2 separate regions of the Homo sapiens genome follow, and region 1 is linked to region 2. The links come from fine-mapping of genetic effects on gene expression. A gene starts in region 2. The other region holds a variant in brackets. All regions are shown on one strand. Distances are from middle to middle.

Region 1 (16,162 bases), 86 kb before region 2:
ATGTAAAGTATACCTTAATAAAGCTGCTGAAAAGGAAAAGGAAAGAACATCCAAGTTAATTCTTTTCTTTCCTTAATTTACCTTTATTTTTACTTTTTTTTAGTACTTTGAATTGCTGTTTGGGGTTTTGTTTGTTTTGGTACTTTGAGAGAGTGAATTCTTATCCATGCTCAGGTTGGACACAGTCTGAAATACTTCCTACAGTTCTATACTTGAGCCTTTTCTCATCTCCCAGCCCCATCTATTCCTATATGCTGAGAACTCCTAATACGTATCTTGATGTCCTCTCTCTCTACTGAGCTCTAAAATGCCTACTAATTTAGTTTTACCTGGGCTGCCTGCAGGTGCCTCAGTATTTCAAAATCCACACCCAGTTAAAAGTAACAGTAACAGGCCAGGCGTGGTGGCTCATGCCTGTAATCCCAGCACTTTGGGAGGCTAAGGCAGGCGGATCACCTGAGGTCAGGAATTCGAGACCAGTCTGGCCAACATAGCGAAACCCCGTCTCTACTAAAAATACAAAAACTAGCTGGGCATGGTGGTGTGTGCCTGTAATCCCAGCTACTCAAGAGGCTGAGGCAGGAGAATCTCCTGAGCCTGGGAGGCAGAGGTTGCAGTGAGCTGAGATCATACCACTACACAATAGTCTGAGCAACAGAGCGAGACTCCGTCTCAAAAAAATAACGATAACAGTAACAACAGCTACATCCAATACCTTGCTCTATCTCCTATTTCACATGGCATCATTTAACCCACTCTTTGCAGATTTGTGCTCTCCTCCCATCCTTCCTGTATGCTTCTCCTGTCAGTCCCCTCCTCTGCAGACCACTGTTACTGCCTTATTTCAAAAGCCTTCCTCAGTCTTCCTGAGGGGACTCCTAACTCTCCTAACTGGTTTCCGTGTCTCCATTTTACAGCCTGTTGGTAATCATTTCTCCACACTCCTGCCAGGTCATTCTTTTTTTTTTTTTTTTTGAGATACAGTCTAGCTTTGTTGTCCAGGCTGGAGTGTGGTGGTGTGATCTCGGCTCACTGCAACCTCTGCCTCCCAATTCAAGCGATTTTCCTGCCTCAGCCTCCCAAGTAGCTAGGATTACAGGCGCCTGCCACCATGCCCGGCTAATTTTTGTATTTTTAGTAGAGATGCGGTTTCACCATGTTGGCCAGGCTGGTCTGGAACTCCTGACCTCAAGTAATCCACCCGCCTCGGCCTCCCAAAGTGCTGGGATTATAGGTGTGGGCCACCAGGCCCGGCAGGTCCATCTTTCTAAAATATGCATCAGATCATCAGGTTTCTCCCCTGCTTAACATCCTTCAATAGTTCCCTATTGCCTGCAGGGGTTCTGCTTCTAACTCCATCTCCAGGGTCTCACAGACATCTCTCAATGCTCTAACCATCTCTTCTCCGGAGAAATGTGTGGCTCTGAATACGCACAAAGCACCCTCTCCCTTCTTAGGGATTCTTCTGTACCTATAGAAGTCTATAGTTCTATAAACTGACTTTTCCAGTAAGTTTATCTGACATAAGGAAACAGCTGATTACTCTGCCGTGTAACTTGTCCAGGATGGAGTATTGAACTACTATGGCCTCTGGAGTCAGACAGGCCTGGAGTTCAACCCAAATGATGTTGCTTACCAGCTACGTAAACAAATGGGGAAAGCACTTGCGCTGCATGTTTGCTTTTCCAATCTGCTCTCAGAATACCAAAATCCATGAAATCTTGTTATCACTTTTGCTAAAGCAGATCCAGCCTAAGGTAGAGATATCCTAAGCTCTGGAAAGCAAAAGACTTTATTAAACAATGGGTAAATCTTTTTTCTCTGCATCCCCTACCAAAACACAAACAAAACAAATTACCAAGTTCCTAAAATACTTCTGTGTAACACTTTTCTTGACTAAATGAGCACTTAATATTAAGAACAGATCTTGCAGTTCTTTGTCAATGAAACCAATTAAAACAGATCATTCAAATACTACTGTGTATTTTATGTCTAAGTTACCCTATTTAACTATCTTTAATGTTAAGCAAATCAACAGATGACTTTATTCTCTGTAGACAAAGACTACGTTTACTTGCTGCCTTTGATAATGATAATGTTATATTAATAGCTAAAATGTTAGCTTCCTGATTCAGTAAATATTTATTTGCAGTAATTAGTAGAAACACGTGGGTACTTAAATATATAGCTATAAATTTGAAACCCTAGAGCTTACTTTTATTGTTTTATTATAAATATTTAAATATACAGGCCAGGCATGGTGGCTCATGCCTGTAATCTCAACACTTTCGGAGGCTAAGGTGGGAGGATCTCTTGAGCCCAGGAGTTCAACACCAGCCTAGGCAACATAGTGAGACCATGTCTCTACAAAAAGAGTTAAAAAAAAAAAATTTAGCTCGGTGTGGTGGCATGCATCTATGGTCCCAGCTACACGGGAGGCTGAGGCAGGAGGATCCCTTGGAGCCCAAGAGGTTCAGGCTGCAATGAGCTGTGTTCAGGCTACTATACTCCAGCCTACGCGACAGAGCAACACTCTGCCTCAAAAAAAAAAGTATACACACACACACACACACACACACACACACAAGATAAACATACACAAAGGTACAGAGAATATGATCACAGACACCCAACGGCTCAGCTCTATAACAAATTTTACTATATCTGTTTTAGATTTCACTTAAAAAATGAACATTTCAAGTCTAGAGCTACAGAATCTCTACAACTAGTAAGCTAACACCAACTCATTTAGAATATCGACCTAAGTTACATTACATTTAAAGTGAGAAATGGCTACAGAGTTTAAGCATTCCAATCTATCTTTGTTAAGAACCATAAAGAAAGATTACATCAGGTCTGGAGACCGTGCCAGAAATGCCAGTCCTCGCCTCCCAATTCATTTGACCTTCTATGGGATCTACTTCCTCACCTACGGTTCTTGCTCTCCTAACTCCTGAGAACTCAGGACCCAATGGAAATCAGTCCACAGGCTGAAGTAGGCCTATTAAATCCTCTTTTCTTTTAGAGAAGCTGAATGTAAAGATACAGATATTCTAGTCTACCTACCCTCTCTACATCAACACCAGTTATCCTAACACAGCAAATCATAAAGTAAAATGTACATCTCATTTCCCTGCTTTAAAAGTCTGCTGCTTTGGTTGGCTGCAGTGGCTCACATCTGTAATCTCAGCACTTTGGGAGGCCGAGGCAGGAGGATCACTTGAGTCAGAAGTTTGAGACCAGCCTGGCCAACATAGTGAGACCCAGTCTCTACAGAAAAAGTAAGAAAAACTAGCCAGGCATGGTGGCACACCTGTAGTCTCAGCTATTCCGGAGGCTGAGGTGGGAAGATCACTTGAGCCCATTAAATTCAAGGTTTCAGCAAGCCATCATCACATCACTGCTCTACAGCTTGGGCAAAAGAGCAAGAACATGTTTCTATTAAACAAAAAAAAATTTGCTACTTCAAGGTGTCAATAAGGTTGCTAAAATAAAAATAAAATAAAATAAATTTGTTTAATCTGTGGTCTATTCTTGAAACTCTTCAGCCTAAGATAATCTGGGCTCTGCCATGCCCCCGTCTCCCTGGCACCCAACACTCTAGTCGCTGTATGGTGGATGAAAGATGATCTCATATTTAAGGTCAGTCTTCCCACTGAAAGGTGGGGTCTGTTTCTCCTCCCCTTGAGTCTGGGATGGTCCTGTGACTTGCTTTAATTCAACAGACTGGGGAAGAAGCAAAGCTGGGTGACTTCTAAGGCTGGGCTTAAGGTGTCTGCAGCTCCTGCACAGTTGGAATGCTCCCTCCTGAATCCCTGCCACCATGCTGTGAGAAACCCAAGGCATGCAGAGGTCATATGGAGGAGAACCTTGGGTCAACAGCCTCAAGTTGGTCTCCTAGCTGACAGCCAATACCAACTGCCAGCCATGTGAGTGGGCCCTTTCAGGCATTTCTGGCCAATTGGGCCTCCAGATGACTGTAACTCCAGCCAATACCACTTTGGAAGAGAAGAACTGCCCTAGTGAGCCCAGGAAAACACAGAATTATGAGAAATAAAATGCTGTCTTGGTAATGGAGTCTTAAAAATATATGAAAACTTTATTTTTTAGAACAGGTTTAGATTTACAGAAAAATTAGGAAGATAGTCCATTTATCCGGATGCAGTTTCTGCTGTTAGTAACATGTTACCTTAGTATATCTGTCACAATTCATGAACCAATATTGATACATTATTATTTATTTATTAAACTTTAAGTTCTGGGATACACGTGCAGAACATGCAGGTTTGTTACATAGGTATACATGTGCCATGGTGGTTTGCTGCACCCATCAACCCATCACCTACATTAGGTATTTCTCCTAATGCTATCCCTCCCGTAGCCCCCCAACCCGATACATTAACTAAAGTCCATAGTTTATTAAATTTGCTTAGTTTTTACCTAATGTTCCAGGATCCCATCCAGAATACCACATTACATTGTCATTGTGTCTCCTTAGCTGTCTCTTGGCTGTGACAGTTCCTCAGATTTTTCTCAGTTTTCCTTGAGTTTTCAGGAGTGCTGATCAGGTATTCTGCAGAACATTCCGCTAGTGGAATTTGTCTGATGTTTTTCTCATGATTAGACTGGGATAATGGGTTTTAGGGAAGACAACTAGAAATTGAAGTGCCATTTCCTCACATCGTACCAAGGGTACAAAGTATAAAAATGACTTATCACTGTTGATGTTGACTTGATTGCCTGACTTTAGGGTTCTCCACTGTGTGAATCCACACTTTAAGAGTGGAAAGTTATGCTCCACATCCTTGAGGATAGAGTATTTACTAAACTTTTTGCAATTATTCCACTCAGGAGGTTACAATGGTGGTTTTAAACCACTAAGTTTTGATGTGATGTAACAGACATCAAGATATCTGAAACACAATCAAATTTTTCACCATCTCCCATCGCATATTACCTGTTTTTTTTTTTTTTTTTTTTTTTTTTTGAGACGGAGCTTTGCTCTTGTTGCCCAGGCTGGAGTACAATGTCACGGTCTCGGCTCACCACAACCTCCGCCTCCTGGGTTCAAGTGCTTCTCCTGCCTCAGCCTCCCGAGAAGCTGGGATTACAGGCACATGCCACCATGCCTGGCTAATTTTTTGTATTTTCAGTAGAGACAGGGTTTCTCCATGTCGGTCAGGCTGGTCTCGAACTCCCAACCTCAGGTGATCCGCTCGCCTCGGCCTCCCAAAGTGCTGGGATTACAGGCATGAGCCACCGTGCCCGGCACATTACCCCTTATATGCTATACACAGTTCCCTCTGCATATAATAGCCTTCTCCCCCTCACCCATTCAACAACAAACCAATAAAAACCATGAAACCCGTCTTTCTACAATGCCCAGTTCAAGTGTTCCCTCTCCATTGTGGACTTCCTTCCAGAAAGAATTCATTGCTTTGCCCTAGGCACATATTTAATATCGGTATCATAGCCTGTATGGTATGGTTACCTCCCTCAACTAGGTTAAAAGTGCCCGAAATGCAGAGACCATGTCTTACATAAATCACTTTGCATGCCTGTACCTACGACATCAGCAACTAGTAGGTGCCCAATAAATGTTTGTTGCATTAAAAAAACTGAATGACTATAAAAGTATGTCATTTTTGATAATATCTCAATAAAAAGAAGAGATGATACAAATAAACAGCTTAGTTCAGCATGTGTCAGTAAATCCACAATAGAGCTGAAACCTCCCAGTAATGTACAGTTCCACTATGTGACAGCGAAACCAGACACTAAGAAAAATGAGCATTACATTTAACCAGTCAAAGCCACATGTGACAGATAAAATAGTAGTATCTGTTTTCAGATCAGTGTGATAATATAAGCACATAAATGCCAAATAAAATAGGTCACATGAATTTCTCTCTACGGGAATCAGGCCAATGAAGCATATACATATCTGTGCCTCCGGATTTTACAGAATATATATATATATATATATATTTTTTTTTTTTTTTTTTTTTTTTTTTGAGACAGAGTCTTGCTCTGTCCCCCAGGCTGGAGTGCAGTGGCGCGATCTTGGCTCACTGCAAGCTCCGCCTTCCAGGTTCACGCCATTCTCCTGCCTCAGCCTCCCAAGTAGCTGGGACTACAGGCGCCTGCCACCATGCTCGGCTAATTTTTTTGTATTTTTAGTAGAGATGGCGTTTCACTGTGTTAGCCAGGATGGTCTCGATCTCCTGACCTCGTGATCCACCCGCCTTGGCCTCCCTAAGTGCTGGGATTACAAGCTTGAGCCACTGCGCCCAGCCTTTTTTTTTTTTTTTTTGAGATGGAGTCTCACTCTGTTGCCCAGGCTGGAGTACAGGGGCATGATCTTGGCTCACTGCAACCTCTGCCTCCCATGTTCAAGCAATTCTCCTGCCTCAGCCTCCCAAGTAGCTGGGACTACAGGCCCCTCGCCCTCGCCCTCGCCCTCGCCTCGCCTTTATTGAGATGGAGTTTCACACTGTCACCCAGGCTGGAGTGCCGTGGTGTGATCTTGGCTCACTGCAACCTCTGCCTCCTGGCTCCGTCCCGTCCCGTCCCGTCTCGTCTCGTCTTTATTGAGATGGAGTTTCACACTGTCACCCAGGCTGGAGTGCAGTGGTGTGATCTTGGCTCACTGCAACCTCTGCCTCCTGGGTTCAACTGATTCTCCTGCCTCAGCCTCCCGAGTAGCTGGGATTACAGGCACAGCTGGGATTACAGGTGCACACTAACAGGCCCAGCTAATTTTTGTATTTTTAGTAGAGATGGGGTTTTGCTATGTTGGCCAGGCTAGTCTCAAACTCCTGACCTCAAGTCATCTGCCTGCCTCGGCCTCCCAAACTGCTGGGATTACAGGCGTGAGCCACTGCACCCAGTCACAGAAGGTAATTTTCATATTTAACCTCTAAAAATATGGAACAATAAGACAGATCCATGGGTAACTCTGTTAATTTGATTCAATTTTATCTCTCACATACACAGCAGAAAAATTAAATAAGCCCTGAAGTGGTCCTTGGGAAAAATGTAAGAAATATTCACTGTTCCTCCAAAGGATATGTTCAGAGGCATCTGAAGTTTTACATTAACAAAAACTCTGTCAACTTGTCTTCCTTCAGCATTTACAATAGAAGCTTTCACAACAATAGCAGAACTCTCTTTGAGAAATTTGTTAGGTCATACAAAATTGCAATCTGGTGACCATTCAGGGAAAAAAAGCTCGTTCTAAACTGATGTGAAATTTAACATTCTTTCTTCCTGCCTCCACTTTAAGTGGTTGGAGCTCCAATAATTAAAACAAAGAATAAATAATAGTTTAAGGAGTCAATTCTGTGTATCAACACCCAACACAGTTCCTAGCACACAGTAGGTGCTCAATAAATATGTGCTGAATTAATCAGGAGAGAGGAGGGGAGGAAAGGAGGCAAAAATAAGGAATTATGCTTGTGCATAATTCAGGAATGATCTATAATCTGTTTACAGCAGTCTTTTAGAAACCATCACCTGCTTTATATCTTTCTGGCAGAGAAAAAAAAAAAAATCCCTAAACTCAAGAGGTCAAAGTCTACAATTCCCAACTCCCGAAGAATATATAATCCTAATCCATCTCTGAACTTCAATAAACATCTCTCTCCAAGAAAATGTTACGGAAGATGCTGCACAGTTTCAGAGAGCACTCTTCAAGAGGAACAGCAAAATTCACTTCCTCCAATAAGACTTCTATACCGCGCTGGGCACAGTGGCTCAGCCTGTAATCCCAGCACTTTGGGAGGCTGAGGCGGGCGGATCACGAGGTCAGGAGATCGAGACCTTCCTGGCTAACACGCTGAAACCCCGTCTCTACTAAAAAATACAAAAAATTATCTGGGCAAAAAATTATCCGGGCGTGGCGGCAGGCGCCTGTCAAGTCCCAGCTACTCGGGAGGCTGAGGCAGGAGAATGGCGTGAACCCGGGAGGCGGAGCTTGCAGTGACCCGAGATCGCACCACTGCACTCCAGCCTGGGCAACAGAGCGAGACTCTGTCTCAAAAAAAAAGACTTCTATACCAACCCTGCCCATCCATAAGGGCTCCTGATCTATACTTGCACAACTTACCTGGATATTTTGTAAACCATATTGACCGTTTATTCATTTGTTAACTATTTTTTTTTTTTTTTTTTTTTTTTAGACGGAGTCTCCCTGTCGCCCAGGCTGGAGTGCAGCGGCGCAATCTTGGCTCACTGCAAGCTCCACCTCCCGGGTTCACGCCATTTTCCTGCCTCAGCCTCCCGCGGGGGACTACAGGCATCCGCCACCTCGCCCGGCTAATTTTTTTTTTTTGCATTTTTAGTAGAGACGGAGTTTCACCGTGTTAGCCAGGATAGTCTGGATCTCCTGACCTCGTGATCCGCCCGCCTCGGCCTCCCAAAGTGCTGGGATTACAGGCGTGAGCCACCGCGCCCGGCCAATTCATTTGTTAACTATTCTTAGCACCTTC[G/T]CTACAACTGCAATTCCAAGCCTTTCCTCTTAATAGGAAATCAAAACTTGTCATTTCAAGTCTTCAACTGTGTACTCTACACTCTACCAACTACAATGACTTCTCTTTCGAAGGCAATACAAAGAAAAGCTGAACCCACTTCCTTTCTTTCTTTCCTCCTCCAAAACTCCCTCCGCCATTAAACAAGAGTCAGAAGAGCAGGATTTGGGCCTGAGCTCAGGCATTACTGCAGTACGAGGCCCGTTAAGCCTGGGAATCTGAGAAACCTTTTTCTAACTGCACTCTGCCTTCCTCAACCCATTTCTTCCCTCTTTTCTCAAACATGCATAGTCCTCTTCCATTTAAAAAAAATCTTTCACTTGAACTTAATCCTCCTCCTCATTGTTCTCTCTTCCATTTATTTCCAAATGTCCTAAAATTGGGTGGTGGACTATAGTCATAACTCATTTTTAAAAATCATTTAATTTCTCTTTAACCCATAAAATTTGGTTTCTGCACCTCCTACTCCAATTAAATGGCACCCTTGAACACCAGTAAGTTCTTTTTAGAAACTATCATAGAAAATTTAAAACATGTACAAAGTAAATACAAATAAACTCCTATGTACCCATCACAACACTTCAATAGTTGCCAACATTCTGCCATTCCTGCTTCATCTATACTTCCATGTATTCTCCACTCCATTTGATTGTCAGTTTCACCACATAAAACATACCTACACTGTAACCATTTTTATTGTAATTATAAACAATTGCACCCCTATCAGACACAGAACATCTCCATCACCCCCTAGAAAGTTTTCTCATATCCTTTCTCTTTAATTAGTTCTTAAACAAATCCAGGTGTCTTTTCTCACTTGTCAACCTCCTTGATTCTTGGCAGCATCTGAAGTTACTGAGTGAGCCTTTCTCTTGAAATTCCCCTTTTGATTTCTATGATGCAAAAGGATCTCAATCCATCCTCGAGTCACATCAGTTTTGGCGCCAAAATACACCTCAAGTCTGTCTTTCCTCCACTTCCAGTAACACCCATGAATGTAGTCCTACCCGAACAGCTGCACGTGCCTTCTCACCAGGCTCCCTGCTTCCACTCTTACCTCTTTCCAATCCACTGTCCAGACAGCAGACAGAGCCACCTCTTAAAATGCAAATCCTACACATCACATCACTCCTCGAGTGAACAGCCTTCAATGGCTGCCCTAGGCATGGAGAATAGGTCCACGTTGCACACTGTGGCCTCTGAGGTCTTGCAAGGTCTCTGTCTCTCTCTCTAACCTCCTGTCACACTTGGCCCACAGGTTTCTGAGAGTTCTTAGAAGAGGCCAAGGGCTTTTGCAGCTGTTTCCTGTGTCTAGAACACTGTTGCTTCAGCTCTCCACACAGCTGGCTCCCTTGCCCATTAGCTTCAGCTGAAATGTCCCCGTCTCAGAGAGACCTTCCTTGACTAGCTACGCTCTTCCTCCCAGCTGCCCTGCATGACATGGCTTTATTTTTTTCATAGTACTTACCATCATTTATAATTATTATCTTTATTTATATTTATTCATGTCTCCCACTAAAATGAAACCGCCTTGAGAGTAGGAACCATGTATTTTTGGTTCACTGTTGTATCCCATGATAACACGTGCTTAATAATTATTTATTGAAGGCCAGGCGCAGTGGCTTACACCTATAATTCCAGCACTTTGGGAGACTGCGGCAGGAGAATCACTTGAGCCCAGAAGTTCGAGACCAGCCTGGGCAACACAGCAAGACTCTGTCTCTACCAAAAAAAAAAAGAGAGCCAGGTGTGGTGGCACACACCTGTGGTCCCAGCTACTTGGGAGGCTGAGGTGGGAGAATTGCTTGAGGCTGGGTGGTTGAGGCTGCAGTGAGCTGTGAGCTGTGAGCTGTGAGCCGTGAGCCGTGAGCCGTGAGCCGTGAGCCGTGATCATACCACCACACTCCAGACTTGGTGACAGAGAAAGATCCAGTCTCAAAAAAAATATATTGAACAAAAATAAATTCAGCTGAAAATCACTTTTTGGTAAAAAATTCTCTACTTTTCCTCAAAACCTACTACCTTTCCTAATGGCCTTCTGTTAACAGACATCCACAAACTATGTAACCACAGCAAAATGACAAATTCCAGCCATACATTAAATCATTCCAAATATAAGATTTTATTGATTGATTGATTTACACCCTCGGAGGAGGAGAATGGACTGACCCCTGCGAGATGAGATCAGCCTCCAAATATAAGATTTTAAACAAAAGCAAACATCAGGAGGAAAAACATAAGAGCCTGAGTTAAACTAAGGCTGATGAAGTTGAAGTTATAATCTAATTTATAACAGAAGCATCCACTTAGTGCAAGTATAAAAAGAATGTTCTCTTATTCTTGAGTCTAATTCATTCTGAACTGATAAACTATTCAGTAATTGAAAAATCAAGAAAGCTAGTCATTTATTTTTCCAAAAAGAAGTTGAAAACTGAGTTTATGGCACAGTAATATATTCTATACCAGTCTAATTACATGTTCACCAAGCAATCTCCCAATTATACCTTCTCTTTCCAGGGAGAAAATGTACTAGCCAGAAATCCAATCTTCCTTTTTTTTGAGGCAGGGTCTGGCTTTGCTGCCCAGGCTGGAGTGCAGTGGCATGATCACAGCTCACTGCAGCGTCAACAGCCCTGGGTACAAATGATCCTCCTACCTCAGCCTCCTGAGTAGCTGGGACTGCAGGCATGCACCACCATGCCCAACTAATTTTTGTATTTTTTGGAGACAGGGTTTTGTCATGTTGCCTAGGCTGGTCTCGAAGTCTTGAGCTCAAGCAATCTGCCCACCTCGGACTCCCAAAGTGCTGGGATTGCAGGCATGAGCCCCAATCTTCCTTAACATTATATTTCACTATCAATTAGTAAATTAGGATCTTGAGGAAGGGTGTATATGTACCTCAGAAATTCTGGGGTGTGTGTATCTTGGGTGTCCTGGGTATGTGTGCCTCTGTGTGTGTGTGTGTGAGGGAGATTCCTAGATCGTGTGTGTACCTCACAGGCTCTGACTAACCCTACATCAGATTCAGGGTCTAAATGAGTCTGATGAAAACCTATATGCTTCTGCTTTAGCTACGGAAAGAAGAAAGAAATCTGGTGATATGGGAAAGGAAAACTAAGAGGACAGGATGACATCTGTCCCTCCACCCAAGCCACGGACTAGATCATAGCCCCGCAGAGGGGGCATTCAGAAAGAAATGGAAAGAGTTGTTTTCAGAGCTCCCAGGAAGAGCTACAGACAATTCTGAATGGACAGAGAGGGAAGTAAAAGTAATACTAAGGGTCTCATGTAACTATGTTAAGAAGCAGCCAAGGAAAATCAGCACATGGAGCCAGATATAGACAAAAATATAGATAAATATTTATATATAGGATTTATATATAGGATTAATATATATTTATTTTTATTTTATTTATTATATATATTTACATACAAGATTTGATGATGATAACACTCCTTAGGCTCTAGATTGAAAAAACAAAGCAAACAAATTACCATTTAAAAATTTATAATATGTAGCCATAAAAAAGAATTAAATCATCCAGGCATGGTGGCTCATGCCTGTAATCCCAGTACTTTGGAAGACCTAGGTGGGTGGAGTGCTTGAGATCAGAAGTGTGAGACCAGCCTGGACAACAAAGTGAGACCCCGTCTCTACAAAAAATACAAAAATTAGCCAGGTTTGGTGGTGTGCACCTGTAGTCCCAGCTACTCAGGAGGCTGAGGTGGGAGGATGGTTTGAGCCTGGGTGGCAGAGGCTGCAATGAGTCAAGATCGTATGACTGCACTCCAGCCTGGGCAATAGAGCCAGGCCCAGTCTAAAAAAAAAAAAAAAAAAAAAAAAAAAAATTAAATAACGTCCTTTGTAGCAACAGGGATACAGCTGAAGGCCATTATCCTAAATGAATTAACACAGAAACAGAAAACCAAATGCTGCATGTTCTCACTTATAAGTGGGAGCTAAACACTGGGTACATGTGGACATAAAGATGGAAACGGTGGACACTGGGGACTCCAAAAGGGAGAGGGAGGGAAGGGAACAAGGGTTCAAAGACAAGCTCTTGGGTACTATGCTCACTACCTGAGTGATGGAATCACTTGTACCCCAAGCCTCAGCATCACACAACATACTCATGCAACAAACCTGCACGTGTACCTCTAAATCTAAAATAAAATAAAATAAAATTTGTAATAGAAAAACACCTAAAAATTATCAGTGACTGCCTCTGTGCAGCAGGAACAGGGGACCAGCTTTGACTCCTGACTTTATATACTTCTGATTTTTTATAAGCCTATAGTAACTTTCGTAACAAACTTTAAAAGACATAGTATTAGTGTTCTAAAAATAAATTATAAAGTTCTCTGTAGTTCAGTAAAATTGTTTTAAATTAGCATATAGGATTAAAAAGTATACTGAAAAGAAAAAATATTTCTCAATCTTATGTTAGGTTCTAATTTAACTCAATCGAATTTTTACAGTCATGTAAAATGAAATACCCATTCTACTCATCCACAGCCTCTACTGTTCAATTTCTACCCAAACTGTACCTTTCAGTAATTTACTGACCTTGGAACTGCTTTCTTCCGATACTTCTCCCTCATTGGTTTGCATGGGAACAGATTTTGTGCAAAACTCTGCAGAAACACAAAAATACTGCCTAAAAGAAGAGAGAAGAAAAAAGTATGTAAGGAATTCAGGGCAAAAAAATTTTTTTTTCAAAGGTTTAGACTGAAATTCTCTCAATAAGGCCACAGATACTGTGAAGTAACTTTGAGTAACTTTGTGTGTGTGTGTGTGTCTATGCACATGCATCTTAAAGGTAAGAAAGGGAGGGAGAGAAGCAGGGAGGGAATGTTTCCCATCTTGGGGGAGAAGGGTAGATAGGAAAGGTTTCCAGCATTGGGATATTAATAGCTCTAGATTTCTTTCCCTATTTTATTTGGCTTTTGGCAGAGGTGGTGGTGAAATTCTTACAGCAGACACTGACCTGCAAGAAAGTATGGCAGTGAGCAAAGCGGCGCACCTGTTGTTCCGCCCCTGCAGGTCACAGTGCCTGGGTATTAGGCTAAGGCTATTGGAATTGGCAGGGTTTCCCGGGCTTATAATTTATGAATAACGTTCCTGCTTTCTTTATAACTGAAATTAAAGTACACTATAATGGCTGGCCCCACTTTTCATTTTTAGGAAATGTGCTTAATAAACTAAATGTCAGTTCATTTATTTTTATATGAGACTATTTATAGGGCAAGACAGTAAAAAGTAATTAAGTTTTCCTCAAAGAATAAAATGAGTCAAGAAAAAGTTTGTTAAAATTTTATGAATTAAAATGTACCAAAAGGAAACTACTAAAAATTTATGCAACATTTTCAAGAATTCATTACATATGTAATTATTGAGGAATATTTTTTTTTTTTTTGAGACACAGTCTTGCTGTGTCGCCCAGGCTGCAGTGCAGTGGTGAGAGTTTGGCTCACTGCAACCTCCACCTCCTGGGTTCAAGCGATGCTCCTGCCTCAGTCTCCCAAGTAGCTGGGACTACAGGCGCCTGCCACCACACCCGGCCGATTTTTGTATTTTTAGTAGAGACAGGGTTTCACTATGTTGGATAGACTGGTCTTGAACTCCTGACCTCGTGATCCGACCGCCTCAGACTCCCAAAGTGCTGGGATTACAGGCGTGAGCCACCGCTCCTGGCCCTATTGAGGAATAATTATTCAAATGACACAAATCTCCATTATAATACAGGTATGAATATTTACAAACCTATCAGCTACTCTAAAGCTCATAGCTACAAAACATAAAAACTAAAAAAGGCCAGGTGCAGTGGCTCATGCCTATAATCCCAGCAATTTGGGAGGCTGAGGCAGGTGGATGGCTTGAGCTAACGCGTTCAAGACCAGCCTGGGGGCGAAACCCCACCTCTACCCAAAATACAAAAATTAGCCAGGCGTGGTGACACATGTATGTGGGCCCAGCTACTTGAGAGGCTGAGGTGGGAGGACTGGTTGAGTCCAGGAGGTCAAGGCTGCAGTGAGCTGTGATCACACCACTGCACTCCAGCCTTGGCAACAGAGTGAGACCCTGTCTCAAAAAAAAAAAAAAAAAAAGGTAAAAAGATGCTGGTAGTGTATGTTTTTTGTGTGTGCAAGAAAAATCTATTAATGCACAACGCTTGATGATCTGTTTTGGTGTAGGCTTCTCTATAACCAGCCAAGACTCAAGGCTAAGAAGGCACTTCCAGGAAGCTGTTGCCTCATCTACTGGGTGGGAAGGGGTTACCAAAATATCTACTTTGCTCACCCACCTAGCAAGGTCTTGTTGGGAACAAATGCATATTTATGTGATGTGAAGTGTAAAATCAGTACAGTAGAAGCTCTCAATTGATATCCATTCACTTGCTCCCAGCTTAATCAACATTGCCCATCCTCTCTGTAAAACACATGAGGGATGCTCACAGCAAGTGAAAATAGGCTTTCTCTAGTTGATTTTGTCCCTCACCTATTTATCACAGTTGTGCAAAAAAAAAAAAAAAAAGTTCTCTTTCTATAAAAATTAGGTTGATAGCATTGGAAAAACTCAATAACTTATCCAGAAAGATTTTATGTGTAATTTGCTTCACAGATGTCTTTAAGTTCTCCTACTTCACTGAAACAGAGACTGCATTTCTCTGTTTCATTATAGGCATAGCTGAACCAGATGATGCATTATAGGCATAGCTGAACCAGAAAAACTCCTTGGAACTCCATTCATGCTTGCAGGCCTGTGCTCAGCACACTCCTTGGTCTGGTGCTGTACTGTCTGCTTCCTCCAGACCCACGCTCCATTCTCCGCCTAACTGTGTGCCCCAGGGGACACCATCATTGGGCTCCTTATCTTCTGGCTGCTGGCTGGGCTAAGCCAGTGGGAGGCACTGACTGGAGACAGGAGGTCGGGAGAGGAAGAAGGGATGGCAGTGGTTGTTTCTTCTATGAAAGGGCACTGCTCTCAACTTGCTGGCTTCTCCTTCAGCTTTAATCTTTTTACTTTCATCCTTTCTGGATTCTCCTATTTGGCTGTTCTATTTTTCTTAAGTCTCTTTCTAGCTTGACTTGCCTGGCTAAATTAGTTTTTTCCTTCTCTGACAATCACTGCTATTTCCCGTTACCGACTCCTCCTCCCTATCCCCCAACACTGCACACTGTCATCTCTCCTCCCCCATGCTATCACCCTCTACCCAAGGCTTTAACCAAGACTTCTGCCCCTCCACTCACTTCTTAAAATCCATCGTGTCCCAATAAGATCCTACCAAGGCCCAAGTCTTACCTTCTCTACTACTACAGCCCTCAGTTTTCCAACATGTTAGAATGGAAATAGGGAAACCAACAAAGGCTACTGAACCACCCAGTGGCTGACAACAATTGGGAACCTTACTATTGCTAGACCTGAAGCGGAAGGGGCAGTGACTGGAACCTGGAGGGGGAGCTGTGGCCGTCACTGAAGAGTCCAACAGACCCGAATGCTTACGGATGTGTGACCTTGAGGGAATTTACTCAATTTGTCTCAGTCTCAGCTTCCCTACCAAAACTTGGGAATAGTAGTTATTCTGAGGATTCACTGACAATGTATTTGCACTTGATACATAATAGGTACTTAA
Region 2 (16,162 bases):
ATGACCCAACCTGAAAATCCATAACAATATCTAAACATAGTTTTTTTTTTTTTTTTTTAAAGAAAATCTCCAAACACATCGAGTGGTATATGTTAAATACCTAAAGCTTTTAGTATGTCAGTCATACCTCAATAAGGTGGTTTGGGGGAAAAAGAAAGCACAAATCGACATTCAGAGGATGGTGAAATGCTCCCATGAAGACAACCAAGCAAATATACCATATACACCTTCGTAATTCATGATCTCTGTACTCAAAGGACTTACATTTCAGTTTCTAACTAGAAAGACAAAGCATAGCACATAAAAAGAATAAAAGAGAATAGAAGGTAACATTTGTTCATTTATTTAAAACATTTACACACTGCCTACTACTACACAACTGGTCAGAAACTGTTCTAGGGATACAAAGCGGGTAAGATAAATGCCTGCCTTCAAGAAACTCAGTCCTATGGGGAAGTCAACAATACACAGGCCAGACATGGTGGCTCACGCCTGTAATCCCAGCACTTTGGGAGGCTAAGGCAGGCAGATTGCTTGAGCCTGGGAGATCCAGACCAGCCTGGGCAACATAGTGAGACCTCATCTCTACAAAACATGAGCCAGGTGTGGAGGTGCGTGTCTGTAGTTCCAGCTGTTCAGGAGGCTGAGGTGGGAGGACTGCTTGAGCCCAGGAGATGGAGGTTGCAATGAGCCATGTTTATGCCACTGCACTCCGGCCTGGGTGACAGAGTAAGACCCTGCCTCAACAAAAAAAAAAAAAAAAAAAAAAAAAAATACAATACACAGCGTTGCTATTAAGCAGGTACACACAAATGAGAACACTGAGGCTGTGTACAGCTGCCATCAATTCTAATTCATCAGACACCGATTCTTATTGGTTCATGCTTTATCTGTTGTTAAATATTGTAATATTACCTCTGATTATAACGCAAATTGGTAAAGACCGTAAGTAATCACTATATGAAAAAAACAATGACACCAAAAAAATTGTTAAAAGTTTTCAGAGAATATGACGAGAACTTAAATTTTAATCTTAGGGTCCCCCTTTGATCTTGGGGTCCCCTTGTGTTTCTTGGCAAGGAAGGTTGGCACATTTGGATAAGGAAGCTGGTTCTAGGTGAGGGGAATAGTAGCCAAAAGACCAGTGGCTGGAAGTACCCAGGTATGGCCCTTCAACTATGTGGAGAGCATGGTTTAGAGTTGTGCTGTCCAACATGGTAGCCACTAGCCACATGTGGCTACTGAGCACTTGAAATGTGGTTACTCTGAACTGAGATGTCTATGAGCGAAAAATACACTCCAGATTTCAAAGGCTTAACTAGAAAAAAGAATGTAAAGTATCTCATTAATAATTTTTACCAATTACCTATTTAAATGTTAATATTTTGGATATACTGAAGTCAATAAAATGCTATAAAAATCAATTTCACCCCTTTCTACTTTTTTAATGTAGCTACTAGAAAATCTATACATATGTGGCTCATATTTGTGGCTTACATTCTATTTCTATTGGACAGTGCTAGTCCAGAAACTTTAAATAACAAGCTAAAGCATTTAAACCCTCTAGGCAATGAAACACCATTGAAGGCTTTCAAACTGTAGTGCCTGTGGTCGATTTGGGAGGGAGCAGGAAACATAAACAAAGCACTGTTTCAGGAAGATCAGTGTGGGGGCAATCTGTAGGGGTGAGACACTGGAGGCAGTTGTCAATGTCAACAGGCTGCAAAATGTCAAAGGGTAAGTAGGCTCAGCTGGAAAGTATACAACGTCTTTAGAAGCCCCATGCTGGGTGGAGGGAGGAGTAAGAAATCAAGAGCAGGTTGAAATACGGAAGAATAACAGCTGCAAGTGCTGACCCCAGCCTGGACAACCAAGGTGCAATACTTGTGGGACTTAGTGAGCTTAGCACAGTTTAGTTTAGATCTAGTCTGGCTTAGTGATAAGGGATTCCATGCAGAGGTACAATTCAGAACAGGATTGGTGTCCTCTTCAGCAATTTTGGAATCTATCTCACTGTGGCAAGACTTCCAACAGTGAGATCAAGTCCCAGAGGAGACACTGAGGACGTAGGCAAGGCTACCAGAAACTACAGGATAGGCTGGGTGCGGTGGCTCACGCCTGTAATCCCAGCACTTTGGGAGGCTGAGGCAGGTGGATCACAAGGTCAGGAGTCCAAGACCAGCCTGGCTAATATGGTGAAACCCCATCTTTACTAAAAATACAAAAATTAGCCAGGTGTGGTGGTGCGCACCTGTAGTCCTAGCTACTCGAGAGGCTGAGGCAGAAGAATTGCTTGAACCCAGGAGGCAGACGTTGCAGTGAGCCGAGATCACGCCACTACACTCCAGCCTGGGCAACAGAGCGAGACTCTGTCTCAAAAAAAAAAAAAACCCAAAAACAAAAAAACTACAGGACAGCAATAAATAACAAAAGCAAAAGCCCAGACTTACAACACAGCCTACAAATATTTACTGGAAGTCTGTTGTATGCCTGACACTTGGCCAGGCTCTGGAGATACACTGAGATTCAGGACCAAAACAGACATGGTCCTGAATCATGAATTGTGGTGACAGCTATGAAAAAATAACAGGAGCTCTGCCAGTCTTAACTGAGGGTGGATGGGGGTAGTGGGACGAGAGCATAAAGGAGGGCCTTTCTGAGGTGACAATTTAATCTGAACCTGAAGTTAGCTGGGTAAAAGCTAGTGGGGAGCAGAGCAAGGACAGCCCAAGCCAAGAGAGTGGTGCAGGTGTATACAAAAACAAAAGCCTTAAGGCCGGAAAAGGCTTGGGCAATTTGAGGAACTGAAAGAAGGACCTTGCAGTTAAGATGCTCAGAGAGGAGGATGGGGTGTAAAAGAAGTGAGAGAAGGTTGGGGAGGCCAGAACACACAGAGCCTCATAGGATAAAAAGTAAAATCCCAAACCGGCCTGAGTGCAATGGGAAGTCATAGAAGGGTTTTGACCACAAGGAAATGCTACAATCCTAAAGGGGTTCTAAGTGCTCCAACTACCCATGCTCCTCTCAGGTCGCTGGATCCGGGCTGGCTTGGTAGCAAAGGGGCAGCAGCCAGTATCGTAACTAAGTAGCAGGATTCCAGGTTTGAAATAACAGAGTTTATTATATGGCCCTCCAAATGCTCCAGGGTTGCAAACTTGAGAGGATGATGGCACCACTGAAAAACACTAATAATAACTATAATTATAAATTATAGAATAATAATTAATAGAAACTAACGATAATAGAAACTAATACTAATGGGAGGCATTACTTGACTTTCAACATACTGAGTACGAAGAAGTAGCAAAGAATGCCAGCCGGGCGCGGTGGCTCATGCCTGTAATCTCAGCACTTTGGGAGGCTGAGGTGGGCAGATCACCTGAGGTCAGGAGTTCCAGATCAGCCTGGCCAACATGGTGAAATGCTGTCTCTACTAATAATACAAAAATTAGCCAGATTTGGTGGTGTGCGCCTGCAATCCCAGCTACTTGGGAGGCTAAGGCAGGAGAATCACTTAAACCCGGAAGGCAGAAGTTGCAGCGAGCCAAAATCACACCACTGCACTCTAGCCTGGGCGACAGAGCGAGACTCCATCTCAAAAACAAAACAAAAAGAATGCCAGCAGGTAAATATGGATTTTGTTTTGGAGTATGGAAGAGAGGTGAGGCATGGATATGCAGGCTAGCATATACAGAGGTGACAGTTAAGTCTCATAAATAACACTTATGAAGATTAGAAAAAGAGAAAAATAAAACAATAAAAGGAGCCCTTAGTAATTGACCTTAGTGTTTATCTCCGGGATAGAAGTCAGGAAAGGAACGACGCCCCAAAAGGTAAGAAGGAGGACAGTACGATGTTAGAAAAACTTAAGAAAAGGCAGAGAGTTAAGAAAGCTGACTGGGCACGGTGGCTCATCCGTGTCCTAGCACTTTGGGAGGCTGAGGTGGGAGTTTGAGACCAGCCTGGCCAACATGGTGAAATCCCTAAGGTCGGGAGTTCGAGACCATCCTGGCTAACACAGTGACCGGCCAGGCTGGTTTTGAACTCCTGACCTCGTGATCCACCCGCCTCAGCCTCCCAAAGTGCTGGGATTACAGGTGTTAGCCACCGCGCCCAGCCAGCAGTGTATAAATGTTTTAAATAAATGAACAAATGTTACCTTCTATTCTCTTTGTACTAAAAATACAAAAATTAGCTGGGCGTGGTGATGCACGCCTATAATCCCAGCTACTTGGGAGGCTGAGGCAGGAGAATCGCTTGAACCCAGTGAAGTTGGGAGGGGGGAGCGGGGCAGAGGTTGTGGTGAGCCGAGATCATGCCACTTCACTCCAGCCTGGGCGACAGAGCGAAACTCTGTCAGAAAGACAAGAAAGATGGATGGATGGATAGAAGGAAGGAAGGAAGGAAGGAAAAAGAAAAGAGAAAGCCGTGATACAAAGGGATGGGACAAGGGAGTTTTTTTTGGAGTGATGGAACCGTTCTGATCCTGACTGTGTACATTCATGTGTGAACATTCACAGAACTGTAAACACACATAAAAAGTCAATATTACTGTATGTTATTTTTAAAAAAATGTTTAAATGGATAGGAATTGTCAAAAAGGATTGACTGCTGCAGGGAGACAGAAAAGGATGAAACCTGAAGAGAGAGTTTTGGAAATTTTTTTTTTTTTTTTTTTGAGACGGAGCCTCGCTCTGTTGCCCAGGCTGGAGTGCAGTGGCGCGATCTCAGGTCACTGCAGCCTCCGCCTCCTTGGTTCAAGCAATTCTCCTGCGTCAGGCTCCCGAGTAACTGGGACTACAGGCATGCGCCGCCACACCCGGCTAATTTTTTTGTATTTTTAGTAGAGACGGGGTTTCACCATATTGGCCAGAATGGTCTTGATCTCCTGACCTCGTGATCCACCTGACTCGGCCTCCCAAAAGTGCTGGTATTACAGGCGTGAGCCACCACGCCCGGCCAATGTGGGAAATTTACCCACTAGGTAATTGGCAACCTTGGAACAATCTGGCTGCAAAAGTTTAAAGAATGACTGTGTAGTGAAGACGTGAAGAAAGGGAAGCAGCCAGCATAGACTGCTCTTTCAGAACTCTGGAAGTGAGAGGAACAGAAGCTCAAACATGATAGTAGAACGGAGAGATCCAGCAAACTGACAGAATTTTCCAAGACCCCATGAGTTGCTCCATTTAAGTATTTTTTCAAAACGCGCATTTTGCACATGAACTAGTCATTTTCTTATTGTCCTGTTAAACTAAAACTGCACAATTCAACGACTAAAATGAATCCGAAATCTACACTTTGATTCTGCTCCTTAGAATCAAATGTCAGTCAACTAACGTTTTCTGTGTTCCCACTATGTGCCAAGCACTGTGCTGGATAGAAAAATGAGTAACAGTCCCTGGAAGAGCACACAATTTATCACAATACACAATAGCCCGGGACTGGAGCAGCAATCTGCACAAAGGGCTCTGAAAGCCTTGAACTCTTGAGCTAAAATGTATTTTTACAATCTTTATAAAAATTAAACAGGGAAGAAATAAGATGTACTTTTGCAAAAATGTTATTAATTTCTAAAAGCCAAGAATGAGCTTAATGTAAACTTTTTTTTTTTCTTGGAGACTGAATTTCGCTCTTGTTGCCCAGATTGGAGTGCAATGGCACAATCTCGGCTCACTGCAACCTCCGCCTCCCGGGTTCAAGCGATTCTCCTGCCTCGGTTTCCTAAGTAGCTGGGATTACAGGCGCCCACCACCACGCCCGGCTAATTTTTTGTATTTTTAGTAGAGACGGGGTTTCACCATGTTGGCCACGCTGGTCTCCAACTCCTGACCTCAAGTGATCCACCTGCCTCGGTCTCCCAAAGTGCTGGGATTACAGGCGTGAGCCATCGCGCCCAGCCTAATTTAAATTCTTAAGTTAGGTATGGGCAACCTAATCATCAGTGGTATTCTCCTTTTCTATTCCTCTCTACTTTTCAGTGCCCTTTCTCCCTCTGATAATTCAAGGAGGAGGCAAAATGAAACACGCGTAGGCTCTCAAACCAGACAGACGTTGAGACTAAACCTATGCCCTGGAACTGCATAGCTGTGTGGCTCCTGGAGATCCCTTTTCTCATTCATAGTATAGTAACGATACCTACCCCACAGGCTTGGGCTAAGAATTAGGGGAAAAGATGTCAAAAGGCTGGCATAGAGTAAGCATACAATAAATGTTAGCTAATATTATTACTGCCATTTCAACAAGTGGTATTGCTCCGACTTGAAAACATTTTTAAGGCCGGGCGCGGTGGCTCACGCCTGTAATCCCAGCACTTTGGGAGGCCGAGGCGGGCGGATCATGAAGTCAGGAGATCGAGACCATCCTGGCTAACATGGTGAAACGCCGTCTCTACTAAAAATACAAAAAAATTAGCCGGGCGTGGTGGCGGGCGCCTGTAGTCCCAGCTACTCGGGAGGCTGAGGCAGGAGAATGGTGTGAACCCGGGAGGCGGAGCTTGCAGTGAGCCGAGATTGTGCCACTACACTCCAGCCTGGCACAATCTTTGAGACTCTGTCTCAAAAAAAAAAAAAAAAATTGAGACTCTGTCTCAAAAAAAAAAAAAAAAATTTAAGTGCTTCCATTTGAATGAGGGAAATCTTTTTCAAGGGCATGACATTTATATGTTACCACAGAAAAGCAGCTACGGAATTCCTATCAGAAACCACTCTGCTCAAATAATGGTGTTTGGGATAAGCCCTTAATAATAGTAAAGAACTAAGAAAATATAAAAGTATTATTATCATCATCACCACGTCCCACGTGGGACAAGCCAGTCTGATTTGTATTCTGGATATTGGTGAGTGTGCCTTCGTGCAAGTGGGCACTACACAGCCCTCCCACTACCTGCCTACAGCAATGCTGCGCGCTGTAGAGACAATGCGCTAAAAGTTCCGCTCTATAAGAGGCATTTACACAACACTACCCAAAACACATCTGTACTTTCGAAGCCAAGATCACTGATGATTCTCCAAATCAAGAGAAACCTTATACTACTGAAATCTCCCACAGCGAAGAGAGAAGTAACCTCTATTAGTAAACTTTCACAAAATGCTAATGTCTATCATTTCTACACACTTTATATATATACTTAACTGTTGGTGGGGGCACTAATGTTTCATTCACTGATTCTTGGCTTGTTTTATTCACTATGAAGAAATATCTTTGACCAATTTTGTATAATTTTGCTTAAATTATAATACAAATGACCAACTTGAAATTCACCATCCTCTCGTTCAATCTCTAGCACTGATGCTAAAAAGTAATAAAACAGCCAAAACACATGAGAAAGCACGAACTTAAAGTCCCAGGCTGGTAACCTGAATTCCAAAGAATTCAGAATAAGCTGGTCCTTAAGGCGCTTGACTAGAGGTGACCGTTACTGGACGTCTTTAACCACTACAGCGTGTCTCGCTGGATCGGATGTCCAGCCTCTACAGCCGAATAAACCGGTAGTCTGGAACTGAAGGGCACCGGACCACGGGAAGGTGTAAAAACACTCTCCGTGCCCCTCGTTTCCTTGTCCAGAGTCTGAGCCGCCTCCCCAAGTGGCCGCACACGCAGGGCCCTGGCGAGGGGTGTGGAACGCATTCACCTTGTCACGCAGGTCCTGCACACAGGCCGGGACGCTGCGCAGGGACCCGAGGATCCGAGGCCTGACGCCTCCCTCTGCCACCGCCAGCCAGGGGCGGACGCGCCTCCGCGGGCCGGGAAGGTGTCCCCGCGCCGAGGCCCCCCGGAGACGGGAAGCGAACTCGACGGCCGGGCCAGCCCACCCGGAAGCCCTCCCCCAGCTCACACCTGCTGGCGCGTGACGCCCGGAGCCGCGCGCGCGCCCGCCAGTGCCTGCCCGGCCGTTCGGGGCGCCCCGGCCCGCGCGCCGGACGTCGCCCCGAGTCCCTCCCCGCCCCTCGACTCAAATCTCGGCGGCGCCCGCTCCCGCGGAGCGCGCGCTCAGCGCCGCCGGCCGCACCAGCCCCGCGCGCGCTCACGCCCCCTCCCCGGCCCGCTCCCCGCCCCACGCGCGCTCCCTCGCGAGGACACGCACACGCCGCGCCTCCGCTCACCGCCCCGGGCCGCGCCGCGCGCCCCCGGGGGCGCCCTCGCCGACCCCCGGCCGCCCCGCTCCGTCCCGGCGGGGCGCGGGGGAGGGGAAGGACGGCGCGGCCGCCGCACCTCACTCACCGCCGAGCCGTGCCGGCTCCGAGTGCGCGGCGTTTCGCTGTGAGGCGAGGCGCGCAGTCTCCGCTTCTCCGCAGACTATGGAGGCGACGTCGTAGGGGGGACTGAGGGGCGCAGGGGTCACTCCCTCCCGTTTCGCCTTGCAGCAGCACGGGGACCCCAAAAACTAAAAACAAAATAAACAAACTTTCCCCTCCGCATCCCTCCCCCAAAACCACAACACAAACACTCGGGGGCCCGCCCAGAGCCCCACTCCATTGGCCGCAGGGAGGATGCTTCCGGCTCTCACTGGCTGGCTTTTGTGCCCGTCAAGCTGTCGTTCCGCCCCTCCAATTCCTCGTTGCTGCCTTCGCCCCTCATTGGTTAAGTGCTTCCCGTTTAACGAGCTAGGATTGGCTGAGCTGCCTGAGCCAATCATGTGGGGACACACCCCCTCAGCATCCCAGAGGCCGCTTCCTCGGTCGAGGACCCAGAGAGACTCAGGGGAAATTAGAGCATGATGGCGGCCGAGGTCGCTTGGCGCAACCATCGTCTTTTTTCTTTATTTTTAGCTCATTAGTGCCTTGCCTCGGCGCTGTTTCCCTAAGCTCCTCTCTCCAACCAGTACTGCCCTATAACGGAATCCATACGTGCCGGCTCCTTGATTTATCCCCTCCGAAGTGCTGAGTGTGGGCTGGTTGTGCGTCATTGGACTGTCAGGATGTCACTCCCCAGTCAAATCTTCAAGCTATTGGTGGAACAGCAAGAAAGCCCGTCCATCAACAAGGGCTAATACCATTGGTTTGACTCCACTGTGTTATTTCCTGGCACCTTATTGGGCAAATAGGTGCGTCAGATCCGGATTCGCTCTGCTACGGTTAATTGTTTACTGGGGATTTGGGGTCAACTCTGGTTGTTTGGCCAGTAGTTGACGATAATAGTGACTCCCTTGCCTATTTTGTGCCAAGTATTGGGCTGCTTTCTTCACAAACATTATCTGGTTAAACCTGGGAGTAATGCAGTATCCAGTTTTTATAGATGGGAAATTAAGGCTGGCGAGAGCTTAGAAAACTTGCCCAAGGTCATCCAGATACAGAGTCGTTGGTGGGCCTGGCATCTGGTCCTGGGTCAAACTGCAGAGACTTCACTCTTTTTATTATGCTTTAGTGCCTCCACCTTAGACGATGTACTTGTCAGCCAACCTAGCATCTTAAAAACGTTTCATTTGGAACTCAAAGTCTTCAGTCAGTTTCTAGAAGTGACTTTGTTGGGGACTTACTATGGAAAGGTTGTCATTGCCTCCACCACATCTTCCTCCCCAGGACCCATTCCTCTCCCCTTTAAGGTAGACATTTCTGCCTCCTTTTATGCGAAGCCTAGGCACCACTCGCAACCCCTGACCAACCATCTACAACTCATTCTTTGGAGAGAGTCCTCAAGAGCTGGAAAACTAGGAGAAATCAAGTCTAAAGAGAGAGACAGAATAAATCGTCTTAGAAATGAATAATTTATTGCATGCAAAGAGAACAGCCCTTCAGCTCCTGGAAATCTTCCAGGATAGTTGATGCTGAGCAAGACGTGTGCTCCTGGCTGGTGGCCACTGGGTTCTTTCCCTATAGCAGCATTCATCGAAGTGAATCCAACATTTCAGCCAGAGGAGGGCAGGACGCTTAGGACCCATTGCCAGTGAGCTTTTGCGACCGAAATGATCTCCAGGAGCACAACGCTGGACTCTAGCCCACATTCCATCTTGGGTAATTAACATTTTACCGTCCCAAATCCCCATCCCCTGTAGCTTCAGTGGGATCACCGCCCTTGTTTCACTTCCTGATCCAAGCTGTTGTGTAACCTCCTTGGCACTGCTTTAATAATAAAACAACCATTGTAACATAGTAACAATGCTCAACACTTAGAGCCTTTCAGCAAATGAAGCCAAGGTATTTCATAAACGTCAATTAAGAGTAAGTGGCATGTATTCCTAGGGCAACTGCAAGAAGGACAGAAGAAAGATCGTGCGTCAAATTCTAATATAGGTTGTAAGAACGTGAGTCCTTAAAATTGTATGCACATACCCCATATTAGCCTTCCAGTATGGGGATTCTGAACTCAAAAACACAATGAATGAGAAACATTCAGAATCTAAAACCTTCCTAATCTTCAAAGTTGGTTGCTTGGACCCCTATTTTAGCACTTAAGTTGGTGCTTGACTTTCTGGGTAATTGTTTGATACATTTCAGTTGTAAGTACCTTGAAGCAGATGGTTTCTTTTTCATCTTTGTGTCCTTCACATTGTTCTGATCGTAAAAGGCCCCCAAATAAATAATTACTCAGTAAATGTTTAGTGAGCATGTCAGGCACTTTTACTAAGTTACAAAGGCTATGCAGATGAGTGATACACTCTCTCTTCCTTCAAGGACCTCAGTCGAGTAGGGGTGTCCAGCAGATAAGCAGATAACCATGATGCAGTGCTGTGAGAAGGTGCCCTGGAAGCAAATGGTAGGGACATGGGACTCCATCTCGGGAGGGACAGAAATGGCTTCCTGGAAGAAGTGACACCTTCAAGGAGAACTAAAGAATGAGTTACGGTTAGCTAGGCAAGAGACTGGTGATGTGTGGTGACCTACGACATTTGCTCTCTGGTGGCAGGGAGCAGAATGGGAATATCCAGAGATGGCCAAAGCCTGTTCTTCTTAGAATCTTTGTCCATAAAGGCCTCAGCAATTTGTCCACTCCACCTCATTGTGCCTTCCCTCCCAGAGACAAAACAAATGCCTGAAACCTTCTCCTATTTGCCCACTTGAGAATAGGAAAATAATTTCCAAATAAGATGGCCGTTTTTCTGATCATAAAAGTAACATTGAGGCCAGGCACATTGGCTTATGCTTGTAATCCCAGCAATTTGAGAGGCCAAGGCGGAAGGATTGCTTGAGGCCAGGAGCTTGAGACTAGCTAGAGCAACACAGGCAGAGCCCATTTCTACAAAAAGAAAGAAAATAAATAGTTGCGCATGGTGGCCTGCGCCTACAGTCCCAGCTACTTGGGATGCTGAGGTGGGAGGATTGCTTGAGCCTGGGAGTTCAAGGCTGCAGTGAGCCACACCACTGCACTCCAGCCTGGGCAATAGAGCAAGACCCTGTCTCAAAAAAAAAAAAAGTAACATTGAGTAAATATAATATTAACTCAATATTTAATATTCTGTATTTCAGACAATATAGAAAGTTATAAAGTAAAAGCCGCCCATAGTCTGTTACATCCAGACACTGTTAAGGAGACTATCTTCCCAGACTCTTTTATGAACAGACCCACAAATGAGTTTCTTCTTCCAACAAACAGTGGGATGTGGTTCAGGGTCTTTTCTGGGCTCTCAGAGCTCTCATCACCCAGAACTGCGGCTTTGGATGGAACCTGCCCTCGCTTTCTATACTTATAGGAAGGAAGCCAATCTGTCAATCAAATATTTATTGTGGAGAAGATGGGTTTCAATTCCTGTCAGAGCCAATGGCAGGACTTTTGGGGCTTACTCAGCCTGGTGTGAATGTTAAGCCAATGATTGGGGTGAGGGCGTCTGCCCTGTAGGGCTTACAGGCATGCCTTGGTGCCTGCGGAATCAACTCATACCCTGAAAAGGCAGCCCAGGTCAGAGAATGCTATGCCAGGGTGCTCTCTTGTGCTTGCTCTCATTTCCTCTCTGCATGCTACTTGGGGAAAATATTTTTCTGTTTGTTTGTTCCAACCCACCCAGCTTTCAGAGTAAAAAGACTCGTTAAGCCCTGCACACTTGTATGCAGGCCAAGTGCACTATGTTCTTGGAGCGCTGTGCTATTCTTAGCGCTCTATATGTGGTGTTCTATACAGTTGGCTTTTTGCTGGAGGGGAAGGCAGATTTCATGAGTGATAGCTGCCTTGGCTGGCTACCAAAAGTGCTCTGAGCCATCTCAAGCAACAGGCCTTCCTTTTTTCCCTTGAGAGGTTGTGTTGTGATCCCTGCCCTCGGCTTGGACAAATTCCAAGGCAATGGGAATTTTTGTGAACAATTCTGCAATAACCCACAAGCTGGGGGAAGGGGGGATAGCAAGCTGGATCTGCTCCAGCTCTAATTTCTGTGACACAGAAGAACTCCTTCCGCCCTTTGCACTGGCCCCTCATAGCTATGAAGAATTTGGAAGTGTTCATTAAGCATTCTCCAATTCTTGAAGCTTATAACAATGGGAAGATCCCTGTAAAGGAATCTGATCCAAAAGACAAGGGGACAGCTGACAGCTGATACTGCTTGCTTGGGCAGTGGGTGTAGCCATTGCCAAAGACCAAGAGCAATGAGGCAGGGAAACTCTCTAAAGAGGGCTGATTACAGAGGGCATGCTTATAAGCATTTATTGCATGTCTGGGAGCATTTACTGTGCAACACATCCCTTGTGTCTGTCTCACCTTCTAAATCACCTATCATTTTTTATGACCACACTTCCTGAGAAGCTACTTAGTTAAGCAGCAAACACTGGACCCCCTCATGTGTGCTGGCCAATGCTAGACACACAGGAGGCAGCTCACAAGAGAACCAGGATTATGGTTAATAATAACTACCCTTTGGTGGACACTTGCTGTGTGTCATACACTGTACTGAGGGCTTTACGTGGATTATGGCTGTTAATCTTCACAACAACCATTGTTATCCACATTTTCTAGATAGGAAAATGGAGGCACTGAAGGGCTAACTAACCCATCGTTGAACCTAGGCGGTCTGACTCCAACGAGTAAGCTCTTGTCCACGCTGCTATATTGCCTCTGGGATGTCTGACTTGGGAACCCCACAGTGCAGCTGGGGAGATGACCAGCCCTCAATGAACAGTTGTCCTCGTAGTCTTTAGTATCTCAGCCCCATCCTCTTTACCCCCTATAAACTCAAGGAAAGAAATACACCTCTTTCCGGCTAAATTACTGCCTCTGGTGGTCCTTCCTCCACGTCCCAACTGAGATCTGGCTTTTCTCCCACTCCCTTCAAATAGCTTCCTTCCCTTTCTTCTCTATTTTCTTATCCTAGCTTTTTAAATAATGGCCTGCGGCCATCTCCACCACCAGGAATGCTCTCTCGTTTTCTCTCTCTGAACCTGGCTTCTAGCCCTAACTCTACTGAAATTCATTTCTCTAAGCTCATCTATAACCTTTTTGTGGCCAAGATCCAAGAGACTTTCTCAGTCCTTGTTTCCATGGCTTCACCAATACGTTTTACTCTGAGAATCTTTTCTTTGCTTCCCCAAATAGCCAGCTTTCCTCCTACCTCTACAACTGTTCATGCTCTTTTCCCTACCATCTCTTTCTCTAAGCTCCTTCAAAGGAATCTGTCTGCACTTCTCTCCTTATGTTGTCTCTGGGGGCGTGCGACGCTCGCAGGACTCAGCAAGCTCAGCTGGGTCATTATCCTACTTTCACCTCTAAGATGAGAATTCTATCTCTCCATCTCCACCCTTCATTCTGCAGCTTGTTTGCTGCGTGACTTTTTGCAAGTCACACAAACTATCTAAGCTTCAGTTTCCTCGTTTCTAAAATGAATATATTGAATCGGATTTGTTATTCTCCACCTAAGATAATGATAAAACCTAACATTTTAACCCACATACCAGGCCAGGCGTAGTGGTTCATGCCTGTAATCCTCCCAGCACTTTGGGAGGCAGAGGCAGGTGGATCATGGAAGTCAGAGGTTCAAGACCAGGCTGGCCAAAATGGCAAAACCTCATCTCTACTAAAAATACAAAAATTAGCTGGGTATGGTGGCGCGCACCTGTAATCCCAGCTACTCAGGAGGCTGAGGCAGGAGAACTGCTTCAACCTGGGAGGTGGAGGTTGCAGTGAGCTGAGATCGCGCCACTGCACTCAAGCCTGGGCAACAAAGGGAGACTCCATCTCAAATTAAAAAAACTGCATACTATGCCAGGCAGGACTAAGTGGAAAATGAAAGCATGGGGTTCTGTGTTCACAGGTTTCATGCCCATGAAGCCAGCTCTAGTACCAGCCTCTGCTCCAAGCATTGTATATGTATGAGCTTATTCAGTCCTCATAGTAACTTTCTGAGGTAGATACAGATGAAGAAAGTAAGGCAGAGATAGGTTAAGCAGTTGCCCAAGGTCAGTTTTTAATTGGTAGAATTGAGGAAAATAACACTTGCCTGTTGGGGCTGTTGTGAGACTCACGGGTGCAGGTGCATAGGGAAGGCTGGTTCCTGTCCAGGGACCCCTCAGCCCGGCCATGCCCATTCTCCGGCAGAGAGTTTGTCCATGTGGTTTCTGCTGCCTATGATGCCCCCTCTTCCTCTGCCTGTCCCCAAGTCTACACTTTCTTCAAAGCTCAGTTCAAGCCCCTCCTCCTCCTCTGAGGGGTTTCTGCAGCCGAGGCAGGCCCACATCTCCCTTCCCCTGGCAGATTTCCTGAGCACCCATAGTGAAGGCAGCCCCCTCCCTGCCTTAGGAGCACTCGCTGGCCTTTGCGTACTCCAGGCTCAGTAATAACCAATCCTACAAGGCCAGAGGAAAAACTTTTTTCTCCATATCCTTGGAGCAGCTTGCTGTAGACTGTCTCACCCACCAGACAGGAAGGCTTTGCGGGCAAAACCTATATTTGAGTTATCTGAGTCTTCACTGTGTCCTCGATAATTGTGATTCTCATAATTCTCCTAAAAGAGTTCTGTCTAGGCTCTGGACCTTTCCCTGGAATGCCTTGCCTCATTGTCCCCTCCTCCATTCACTCCTCAGGTATCGGCTCAGAGATTACCTCCTCCTCCAGGAAGCCTACCCTGTTCTTCTCCCCCAGGTTAAGTGCCTCCTCTGGGCTTCTTTACATGCTGTGCTTTCCCATCAGAACACTTGCCTCCCAGTATCCATCTTCCTAACCATGTTCTGAACATTTGAAGGTAAAGGCCAGGTCTATCTTATCACAGTGCCTGGAACACAGTAAGTTCTCAATAAGTTCGTTTGAACAAATGAATGAACGAATGAATGAATGAAAAAATTAAATGTTGAGCAGGTGCAGTGGCTCACATCTGTAAGCCCAGCTACTTGGGAGGCTGAGGTGGGAGGATCACTTGAGCCCAGGAGTTAGAGACCAGCCTAGACAACATAGCAAGACCCCATCCCTAAAGTTTTTTTTTTAATTAGCTGGGCAGGGTGGTGCATGCCTGTAGTCCCAGCTACTTGGGAGGCTGAGGCGGGAGGATCACCTGAACCTAGGAGTTTGAGGTTGCGGTGAGTTATGATTATGTCATTGCACTCCAACCTGGCAACAGAGACCCCCATCTCTTAAAAAAAAAGTTGGTGAAAACTCTGGGCTCTGCAGGCATCTCAGCACAGGGCTTGGCACCTGATGGGTGCTTATGTACATTTATGAAATGGGTGAGAACAAATCCAGAATTTCTGTTCAGAAGAAGCCTTAGTGGCAGCGGTCTGGTTGGAGGAGTGAGACTAGTGAATTCCTCTTGACAGAACAATGACAAGGTAAACATGAGAGTTGAGAGTCCGTGTTGGGAGCGGAGGCATAAAGGAGAGGTGTCCTAGGCCAGAGGTCAGCAAGCCCAGGCTTGAGGACCAAATCCAGCCCACTGCCTGTTTTGGCACAGCCTGTGAGCTAAGACTGGTTTTTGCTTTTGTTTTTTTGTTTGTTTGTTTTTGAGATGGAGTCTAGCTCTGTTGCCCAGGCTGAAGTGCAGTGGCATGATCTCAGCTCACTGCAACCTCCGCCTCCCAGGTTTAAGCAATTCCTACGCCTCAGCCTCCCGAGTAGCTGGGATTACAGGCATGTGCCACCACACCAGGCTAATTTTTGTATTTTTAATAGAGACAGGGTTTCACCACGTTGGCCAGGCTGGTTTCGAACTCCTGACCTCAGGTGATCCACCCACCTCGGCCTCCCAAAGTGCTGAGGTCACAGGCATGAGCCACCGCACCTGGCCGGTTTTTGCATATTAAAAGAATATTACTACTTT

Direction of the effects. Alleles are on the strand shown, and positions count from the first base shown. SD is a standard deviation of normalised expression in the study named.
As copies of G replace T in region 1, the expression in testis of the gene that starts at base 8,689 in region 2 goes up (small effect, 0.33 SD a copy in GTEx).

The links. PIP is the estimated chance that this variant, and not a neighbour inherited with it, causes the effect.
Region 1: its variant is fine-mapped to the expression of TNRC6B-DT in testis (GTEx, PIP 0.94).

The regions. Positions count from the first base shown.
Region 1 is chr22:40,122,796-40,138,957 of GRCh38, reverse strand. It overlaps a transcript of TNRC6B not described here. Among named protein-coding and RNA genes, the nearest start is that of TNRC6B, 47 kb to the left of the region's middle. The variant G/T (reference allele first, on the strand shown) is at 8,490.
Region 2 is chr22:40,037,057-40,053,218 of GRCh38, reverse strand. It overlaps TNRC6B-DT (TNRC6B divergent transcript), which reads left to right and starts at 8,689. Exons shown (of 1, transcript NR_163486.1): 1 at 8,689-10,089. It overlaps FAM83F (family with sequence similarity 83 member F), which reads right to left. Exons shown (of 5, transcript NM_138435.4): 5 at 9,685-16,162. It also overlaps a transcript of TNRC6B not described here. RefSeq lists silencers at 6,131-6,349, 7,636-7,705, 7,716-7,935 and enhancers at 8,236-8,355, 8,666-8,965, 9,047-9,694.